Linked DNA regions of Homo sapiens. The protein of the gene in region 2 interacts with the protein of the main gene of each other region in a biochemical or structural test. Each region holds a gene or a part of one and is shown on either strand. Other genes may lie near its edges.

Region 1 (2,956 bases), on a different chromosome or scaffold from region 2:
GTCCAGGCTGCGGGCGTGTCCGACACAGGACTGCACTGACTCCCTCTGGCAGTAGCTCTGGCACCAAGGCAGGGGCCGGTATTTGAGGTCCTGGGCCAGGGAGGGGCCGGGCTGCACTGGGTCCCGCCCCCTCGACTCAGCTGGGTGCCTGATGAACTCCTGGCTTTCATTCCCATGGAGACCCCCAGGGTAAGGGGTGGGAGACCTGCCTGAGCCGGTTCTGGTGCCCCAGACCTGTCCCAAAACCGTCCCAGAAGCCCCTGCCAGCCCCCTAGGAGGGAGGTAGACGGTCAGCCACATCCCGGTGCGGCTGTGTTCTTGTCCTCGCCCCTAGAAATTAGGTCGCCTAGACTCTGCCTCCCTGAGCAGAATCCCTTCAGGGAAAGCAAGGCAGCGCAGGTAGGACCAGCCACACTCCCTACCCAGCATCTCCTGCTGCTGCTCCACCTGCTCACCCTGCGGTGGAGGCCGAGGCTCCCAGATCTCCCTGTCCCCGTCCCTGGTCCTCCCACCCACCCACAGGCCTCAGGCAGCGCAGCTGGGGGCACAGCTCCAGCTGGGCAGGGCAGGAGGCTGTTGGTCAACATGCCAATGACACCCACACAGCACCAAGGCGCCGCCAGGGCTGGCAGAAGCCCCTGGGTGGGGCGGCCAGGCACGTGAGTCTAGGAGTGGCCTGGGAGGCAGGTGCTGCTGCGGGGGCCTGGGCAAAGGTGGTGGCACCAGCCGCGGAGGCTGCCACTGCCACAACATCACAAGCTGCAGGTTCTCATGTTTTATTGTAAAGCAACAAGAAACTCTTATGTACACTGTCCGTCTTGGGGCGCCTCCATCCTGTGCCATCTTCTCTACCAGGCCAGGCAGGCATGGGTGGGGCGCTCAGAGTCCTCTGCCCTGTCCCTGCCCGGCCAGGACCCCGCAGACCTCATGCTAGACGATGACCGTCTGCACCTCCAGCTGGCCCTCCGGCGAGGCGATGACCAGCTCGCCTGCATGCTCCAGGATCTCGATGTCCTCTGATGACACCATGGTCACAGTGGCCTGTTCAGTGCCACTTGTCCCTGCCCGGGCGGCAAGCACAGTGCCCTCGCTGATGGCCGAGGCCAGCGTCATGGCCACCTGCTCTGTCAGGCTCTCGGGGGTGGCGATGGTGATGGTGTCGGCGGCAGCCGCCTCTGGGCCCAGCGCCGTCTCCTCGTCCATGGTGACGTTCTGCACGATGATCTGGTGGCCGGCGCTAGCCTGGTGCACGATCTGCTGCACCACCTTCATGATGTGGCTGTCCACCTGCAGGGCCACGGCTCAGCAAGAGCGGCTGTGCCAGGGAGCCTCCCCGCCCCCGCCTGCCCTACCCCTCACCTCTGTCTGGGTGCCCTCGATGATCTCCGTGGCCTCACTGGTCTCCGCATCGTCCGCAGTGGCCTGGGCAGATGGGCAGAAGGACAGAGGTCAGCCTTGGCTGCCCCTGGGTCCCAGCACGGCCCCAGGGCCCCACACCCACCTCGATGATATACTCCTGGGTGTCAGCTACCACGGACGAGAACTCCACCAACACTGTGTGCGGGTCTTCCGTGAGGACGGTGGTGGCTGCCGCGGGGCTGTCCTCAGACACCAGCAACTCCTCCACCTCCAGCAGGCAGCCCCCTGTGGGTGGGGACTCGGTCAGGGCTAGGCAAGCCCCGGCCCCCTCCCCTCCCCCTCCCACCTCCACCGGCCCAGACCTTTGGTGCGCAGGTGCCGGTTCAGCGTGCCGTGCTCGGCGAAGCCACGGCCGCACTTGTAGCACTTGAACGGCTTCTCGCCTGTGTGGTGTCGCACGTGCCGCACCAGTGAGCCCTTCTCTCGGAAGCCACGGCTGCAGAACTGGCACACGTGCGGCTTCTCCTCCAGGTGTGTCCTGAAGTGCACCTGCTGTGCGTTCTGTGGAGACACCTGTCAGTGCCAGCCTGGCCTTGGCCACAACAGACTACAGCTCTCCCCTCCCGCCTGTGGCCCAAGGGAGGGGCTGGGTCAAGACTGAGCATGGTGGAGGCAGGGAAGGGGGTGCACCTGGGCCACGGCCAGGGAGCAGGATGGGGGGATCAGGCGCCAGGGTCCTGCGGCCAGAGACCCACCTTAGTCTTGTAGCGCTTGCCACACTTGGGACAAGGGTAGGGCCGCTCGTCTGAGTGGACGCGCCGGTGGCCACGCACATGGGCAATGGTCTTGTAGAGCTTCCCGCAGTCGCCACAGCGGAAGCGGCGCTCACGCACGTGCACCTCCTGGTGCTTCTTGAGCAGGTAGGCCTTGGGGAAGGCCTTGCCACACTGCGCGCAGGCGAACGGCCTCGGCCCTGCAGCCACACACAGCATCAGGCCAAGCCCATCACCCGCGGGCCCGCCAGGCCGCCTGCCACCTGCCCACAGATCCCCTGGCTCCCTGCTGTCTATGGACCCACCCTGGACACCCAGAAGCACCCCGGCCACCTATAGCCCATCCACTGCCATGGGCCACACACCCACCCATCACCTACCGGTGTGGCCCCTCTTGTGGGCCTCCAGGGTGGCTGCTGTCGGGAAGGTCTCACTGCACTGAGGACATGGGTGGGTCCTGGGCACCGCTGAGGCCTCGCTGGCCACCTGCTGGGGAACCACAGGAAGGTCTCCAGCACCCGGGGCAGGCTGTGCCCTGGCAGTACCAAGAACACAACCATGGGCCCCACCCTGGCAGGCTCCCTTGTGGCCCCAGGGAAGGCAGTAAACAGATCAATGGACAAAGTCACTGCAGAAAGCCACTTCAGGGAGGCGAAGGCCAGCGTGGGGACAGCCCCTGGGATCCAGCCCTGGGAGGAGCCCGCAGGTGGTGCTGGCACCTACTGTCTCCAGCGGCTGCACTTCCAGTACCGGCAGCTGCGGGGCTGCCACTGCCAGGGGCTGGGGACTGGACCCGGCAGCAGGAGCTGGCTCCAGGGCACCCT
Region 2 (7,304 bases):
AGCCATATTAATAATCTCCACCTATGATGTATTTGTTCTTGCCTCTCTACCTTTCTATATGCCATTCATCTCATCTGTAATTTCTTTCCCTTAATTTATGTTTCAGTTTTCCCTTCTGCAACTCAACAACAACAAAATCAAACAAAACAAGAAAATTCCAGTCTTATCATCCCCTTGATAACCTGAGGCATTCCACTCATTCATCTGTATCCCCCGTGTGTCCCATACACATTGACATTCTGTGGTCATTTGCTCAACAAATGTTCAGACATCTTCTCATGTGTTTTCATGGAGTGTCTTCATCTCTAGTTGCATATTAAACTCACTTAGGGAGTTCATAAAAAATATGATGGATCTCCAGACCAAATAAACAGAATCGCTGAAGGGTGGGGCCATGCTGGGGAGGTAAATGTTTAACTACTTGCTCCTCAGGAAAAAAAAAAGTCCTGATTTGTAGTATTTGTCACTTTCCATGGTGTAAATACTCCCACCATAGTGGATTTCAAGCTACCTACTTGACATCACTGAACACAGAATTCAGAAGAGATGTTCACTATTTGCTCACAAGGGCTGGTTCCAGCATACCACTGGATAGGACACAGGCATATACATATAAATACATTTCTCAGATGCAGTGACTGTTTTTCTTTGTTTGACTCATCTTCCCTATGACACTAAGCACAAGGGCTGAATCAATATTAACAAACCACATAAAGTGATTAATCTATAGTTCACAGCCTGTGATGCAAATGTGAACTCTGCCTCATCCTTTGACTCAAATGCACAGAATTATCAATTTACTTTCTCTTGATTTTTGTACAGTTAAAGGATGAGAGGCTAAATATATTTGGGTTCTCCTAATGAAAATGTCAAGTTTTTGTTTATATGTATATATTTTTAAATATTGCTTAAAGACGCACAAACACTGGGTTTTTTTTAGCACCCCTCTCCCACTCTTAGCTTTTAGGTATGGGAGCAGCAATGAAAATGATTTTTTTCATGGTAACTCTGTTTTTATTCCACTTAAAGCTCATATGTAATTGTTTGAAGACACTTTCCTTGGATCCTTTCATGTGTTTGGAAGTTTCAATTCTCTTCTAAGTGGCATTTTTAGAGAACAGTAGATATATAAGATTGCCCGGGTGGTCCTTCCCAGGCAAGGCAACATTGACCTAAGAAAACAGGATGCAAGGTAGATTTGTAAAGACTTCTAGGGAAAAAAATTTCATGGATACTTAAAATTACATGAAAGAGTTCTACTTAATTTGATAGCTCATGACACTGCTTACTACTTATTTTAGCAGGTTCAGCATGATACCACCTGGATCTCCAATGACTATTTACATACAGAAGGGAAGAGAACAGCAGGACGTTCTTATACTTTAATACTGGCTCACATTATTAGCAATCCTGGTTAATTTATACTTCAGTTTTGTTTTCTTCAAGATATGCTTCCTCAATAAATATGTTTTTTTAATGTTTCTATGTACAGATTATAGTGAGGACAAGGTGCTCCAGGAATATGGGGCAAGAGACGTAGAGCTATTTTCCAATTTGATGTTGCCAAAAACTTCAGAGACTGTGATTCAGTTATTTAAATAAGATCTAAGAATGCATCAGTCTGCACGTTAGTATAACTTAATTTCCAAGTATTCTAGCATTCTTTGGAGTGTTTTGGGATCATCAAATATTATGAAATTGTTCAATGAAGAAATATGTTTCCAGTCATGAATCATTAAATATAAGTCTGGTGTCAACAGAATATAGACAGTCAGTTGGAAGGACAAAATTTGATGTTTAAGAATTGGTAAAATATAGGATAAGATTAAATATTTGTTTTACATATGAGGCAATGTAATAAAATAGTTTTATTTTTAAAAGAATTTATATTTGCTTTGTACACTTAAGACCTTACATTTTGGGAGGTTTTCATGGTACGATTGCAGACTATATATTCCTAACTTTGAAGGCTACAACACATTTTCAGGAATACTGCAGGACGATAACCAAAAGTAAGAAAATGCGAAATAAGGTTTAGTTTGGGGACATTTTTCAGTACATATTTCACTTTTTATATTAATTGGGAGAAAAAAATTAATGACTATGTCTTACCTGAGCAGGCTTCTTCTGAACAACTTGTTGTGGCTAAGGAGGAAAAGAAAAAGATATATTTTAAAAGAAAATATACATTATAGAAAAAATTAGGTGTACATATTTTAAATACAGATACTTGTCTGCAAAGGAAAGAGGAAAGTATAAAGTTCAACTGGTATATCCAATGTTAAAAGTGTTTATACTTGGCCAGGCATGGTGGCTCACGCTTATAATCCCAGCGCTTTGGGAGGCAGAGGCGGACGGATGGCTTGAGCCCAGGAGTTGTAGACCAGGCTGGGCAACATGGTGAAACCCTCTCTCTACAAACATACAAAAATTAACAGGGTGTGGTGGCGTTGCAACTGTAGTCCCAGCTACTCAGAGGCCTAAATGGAAGGATCACCTGGGCCAAGAAAGGTCAAGGCTGCAGTGAGCCGTGATCATGCCACTGCACTCCAGCCTGGGTGACAGAGCAACACCCTATCTCAAAAAAAACAAAAATGTCTATTCATGATCTCTCTATATTAAGGAAATACAACATAGGTTATCTCAGTGAAAACAATTCCAATTCCCAATTAAATTCTGGCATACAAGCCAACTAGCTTGAAAGAAACTTAACTGTTTGATTCACTTTGTTTTTAGCCTATATATCACAAAACTGAGGAGTGAAGGTACCTAATTTGTTAATATTTTATTTTTTTAAAACACCTTCACTGAGACATAATTTACATACCACATAATTCACTCATTTAAAGTATATTTTAGTATATTCAGAGGGTTGTGCAACCATCACCACAGTCTAATTTAGAACACTTTCATCTCCTCTAAAAGAAATCTTGTACCCATTAGTGGTTACTCCCCACTACCCTCCACGTCCCTAGCCACCTCCCATGCCTAAGTGACCATGAATCTACTTTCTGTCTCTATGAATTTACCTATCCTGACATTTCATGTAAGTGGAATCATACTATATATGTAGAGTCTTTTGTGTGTGGCTTCTTTCACTGGCCTAGGGTTTTCTAGGGTCATCCATGTGGTAGCATCAGCAGTTCATTCCTTTTCATGCTAAATAATTTTCCCTTGTATGGGTATACCACATTTTACCTATCCATTCATTAGTTGGTGGACATCTGGGGTGTTTCCACCCTTTGGCTATTATGAATAATGCTACTATGAACATTTATATACACGTTTTCGTGCGAACATGTTTTCATTCTTGGGTATGTACCTGGGAGTGGAATCGCTGGTTCATATTGTAATTCTTTGTTTCACTTTTTGAGGAGCTGCCAGACAGCTTTCTAAAGCAGCTGTACCATTTTGCAGTCCGTCCCACCAGCAATGAATCTGGAGTTCCAATTGCTCCGTATACATGCCAATGCTTGTTATTGCCTGTCTTTTTGCTTGTAGACATCCAAGTGGATGTGAAGTTAAACATCATTGCTGTTTCAATTTGAACTTCTCTCACAACTAATGATGTTGAGCATCTTTTCATGTGCTTATTGGCCATTTATATGTCTCCTGGGAAGAAATGTTTATTTAAATCCTTTGCCCATTTAAAAAAAATTTGCTATCTCTTCATAACAAAGTTGTAAGAGTTCTTTTAATGTTTTGCATTCAAGTCCCTTATGATTTGCAAATAATTCTGTGAGTTTGTTCAGTTTCTTCGTGGTATCATGGGAAGAATATTGTGTTATATTGTGTTATATCTGTATCTATTGTATGTGTAGAGCAAAACTCTCCTCTTTTGAGTGAAACATCCGAGGGAATGTTTTTCTGCCTGCCTAACTTTCCAATCGAGTATTAGAGAATACTTCTTATTTCTTTGGCATTATAAAAGATGGATTTGAAGCCTGAGCTTTTCGATGGATTATTTGCTTCCAGTCCTCACTCTCATGTCTGAATATAGGCATGTATTATTCTATCTACACATCGCTGAGATTTGTGAGTACACCTGAGGTACTCTGATGTGGATAGCGACATGCTTTCTTGCACCAGTTCTCCCAAATAACAGCACTTAGGATACGTTCACTATTCACTAGCCCCTGTTCATTCATTCTGAGAGCCCCTTCCTCTCAGAGTTCCTCTCAGTGGTACAGTGGTTTATTGCTGGTACATTAAAAATTCCATATAAAAATCATTAGAGCTTTTTTTTTTTAGATGGACAGAATAAAAATAAAATAAATGGCAAGGTACTTTTGCTCAAAGGAAAAGACGTTCTTCCATTTGACTTTAAATCACAGTAAAGATGACGTCATCACAAAAGCCCAAGTTTTGAGATGATGTTTTCTCCAGGGAAAATCGAACCAAGAACGATGAGGACTTCTTGCCTCTTAGGACACAAAAGCGTGGGCTAATAGAGGATTCATTTCCAAAGGGTCATTTGGAAGAAGAGAGCACTCATCTTCCTCCCATTTTTCCCTGTTGATTACACCTGTACACATGTTTACTCCCAAACCGTTTCAAATCCACATACATTCTTGCAGGCTGACTGGTTCCTACTGCTCAGAAATCCCCCTCCTTTTTTGGCAGAGGCTCCCGCATTCATGTGACTCCTGCACACTGCAGCTCAATGAAATCCTCTGAAAGAGCTGCCAGCTCACCCAATTTTCCATGAATTAGGTCCTGACACTTCAATGAGGGGAAAGACAATGTCTGAATCTCTGCCAGCCCTGGCTCCCGGCCTAGTCCGTGTCACGGAACTTCTACCAGCTACCCTCAGACACAGCACTTCATACTTTTCAGACCACCAAACAAACAGACCCTTGAATACTTTCAATGTTGGTTGGGGTTATGGCTGCCAGGATGTTTTCCCAGCCTCTGGCACCCAATGGCTCCAGACTGTGCCGAGAAAGTTTTTGTTGTTGTTATTTTGTTTTGTTTTTATTTTTATGAATGGCTTTGGTAGAAAACGCAGACTGAAGCATAATACTACCACCATTCATAAAAAGGGAAAGGAAACAAACTGCTGTCTGGAAAGCTTTTTGGACGCCAAACAAACTGTAAGTCTCTTATCTTCCTTGGGGCATCTCTCGGCTCAGAACTAAGTGTTGATTCTTAGAAACCAGTTGCTCCTCGGGGTTCTTGGCATTAAAAACACGACTGGCCACTAGAGTTTTATAAGACCTGAATAACATCAATGATACATATTAGTCTTCTGTGTTGTTAACAGTAAATTTTCATGCACCTTAATAAATGAGTAATATTTTGCACATGCATTTCCTATATGAAAGCTAGAATCCTTTATATTTTTAACATCTGCCCCTTTGTTACTGGGAGGGTCCAGGCCTTACTGTTTTCATTTTCTCACAGGGAAACCAAGGCATAGGGAATTTAAATAATCGTCTGAGATCTTTTTCTAAAACCAAAACAACCCGAGTCTACTGATTCTCTTAATCCCTGATATAATGCTCTGAAGAAACCCAGTCTGTTCCTTGAAAAAAAGAAAAAAGAAAAAAGTCAAATCGAGATCCAATCCAGGAGAAGCTGTACTTCCCGGCTTTGATTTTCATCTCCAGATTGTTCAGCAGGGCCTAGTTCTGATTCCTCCAGGTTGCTGATGAAAAGTGAATCGCAGGGGACAAGAGTCAGACCTGCAAAGTCCAGCTGCCTCACCTCACTTGGAGATTCTTCCTTCATTATCAGTTGTGGAGGGGCTGAGTCCCTCTTAAAGGTGTGTACATCATAATGACTGTTCAGTGAACAGATAGCAAAGCCTTTCAAGTTGTTTAGACAAATCTGATGATCCAATTCTAAGTGTGCACATAGGGAGTTTATACAGTTTAGGCACTTGGTCAACTTGGCATGCAAACCCTTCAATGCACTGAGATTTTGAGTTCATTATGTTGAGACTATTGCACCTTTCAAAAAGCTTGTAATGAAAATCCTCATTCCATGGTTGCATTGAAACTTCTAAAATACAATGGGGTGAAAGAGAGCTTCCTCCCAGAACAAAACATCAATAGCAGCATTGACAAAATCACCAAAGGACTTTGAAGAAATTTTTTGGATTAACAGATGTTAAAACGAAACTGTGGCCGGGTGTGGTGGCTCATGCCGGTAATCTCAGCACTTTGAGAGGATTGTTTGAGCTCACGAGTTCGAGACCAGCTTGGGCAACCTAGCAAGACTTCATCTCTATTAAAAATAATTAGCCAGGTATAGTGGCGCATGCCTGTACTCCCAGCTACTCGGGAGACTGAGGTGGGAGGATTGCTTGAGCCTAGGAGGTTATGGCTGCAGTAAGCTATGATCACACCATTGCACTCCCGCCTGGGTGACGGAGCAAGACTCTGCCTCAAAAAAAAAAAAAAGTGGTGAGAATTCAAAGACCCCATGAGTTGAACATACCACGTGAAGCTTAAAAGGGCTCTTTCTAACCACATGGATTTCAGTGAGTAGTTCTCTGCAGTCTAGCCCTTAGAATGGACTAGCTCAGCCACAATTGAAAGTATAATGCTTAAGCAAATAAATATCATTGTTAAAGTATATACAAATAGCTTAGGGTACAACATGCTAAGAAACTGTAGAAGATAAGCAAAAGGAAAGGACATATTTTTGGATTTCTGAGGTCATACAGCAAATGAACATTTCTCCAAATGGAAGAAAAAAAGTTACTGAATTTTTAAAATCCACAGAGTATTTGGATTTTTAAGATTTTGTAGAGAGACACTTGTGTAGGAAATGGTCTGCCATTCCACCTATTTCAGAATAATTAAGAAGTTCCTCAGCCCTCCTAAGAATACAATCTATGGTTCCAGGAAGTCTAGGTATTTTAAAGCTGATACTCAGACAGCTAAGCCACTCCTTCTGGTAGGTATTGAAAGAAAATCCTTGCTAACAAAGGACCCAGACATTAGTAGTTCATTTTAGTACTAATCTAAACATTAAATAAAAAGAGGCTTGAATTGAGCTTACAAACTTAATTTTTAAAAAAAAATTAGGCACAATGTATGGTAAAGCAAACATGATTATTATGTAAAGGGTCTCAAGTTGACCTTAGAAAGAAAGAAGCCCTTCACATGGCTGTCTGTGCAGATGAGTCTCTGGGTTTAATGTAAGCAGCAGAATTTTAATATAATTAGATCCTTTGCTTCTTGCCAGGCAGTAGTAGGTGATTTTGCCCACTTTGTTTTAAAATCATATGATTTTGTTTTAAAATCATATGACCATTGTTCAACCAATAGGTACTTCTGTGCCATAGCATAATCTTT

Evidence for each region.
Region 1: the proteins of HMGA2 (region 2) and E4F1 form a complex in vitro, tested with the Homo sapiens proteins (one study listed by BioGRID).

The regions. Positions count from the first base shown.
Region 1 is NC_000016.10:2,233,547-2,236,502, reverse strand, and holds the end of E4F1 (transcription factor E4F1), read right to left. Parts: coding exon 2,856-2,956; coding exon of another isoform or gene 2,852-2,855; intron 2,622-2,851; coding exon 2,513-2,621; intron 2,333-2,512; coding exon 2,115-2,332; intron 1,921-2,114; coding exon 1,722-1,920; intron 1,645-1,721; coding exon 1,502-1,644; intron 1,423-1,501; coding exon 1,360-1,422; intron 1,288-1,359; coding exon 931-1,287; 3' UTR 761-930; downstream 1-760. UniProt on the Homo sapiens protein: May function as a transcriptional repressor. May also function as a ubiquitin ligase mediating ubiquitination of chromatin-associated TP53. Functions in cell survival and proliferation through control of the cell cycle.
Region 2 is NC_000012.12:65,946,224-65,953,527, reverse strand, and holds part of HMGA2 (high mobility group protein HMGI-C), read right to left. Parts: exon of another isoform or gene 5,404-7,304; intron 5,094-5,403; exon of another isoform or gene 4,821-5,093; intron 2,146-4,820; coding exon 2,113-2,145; intron 1,173-2,112; coding exon of another isoform or gene 1,098-1,172; exon of another isoform or gene 992-1,097; intron 1-991.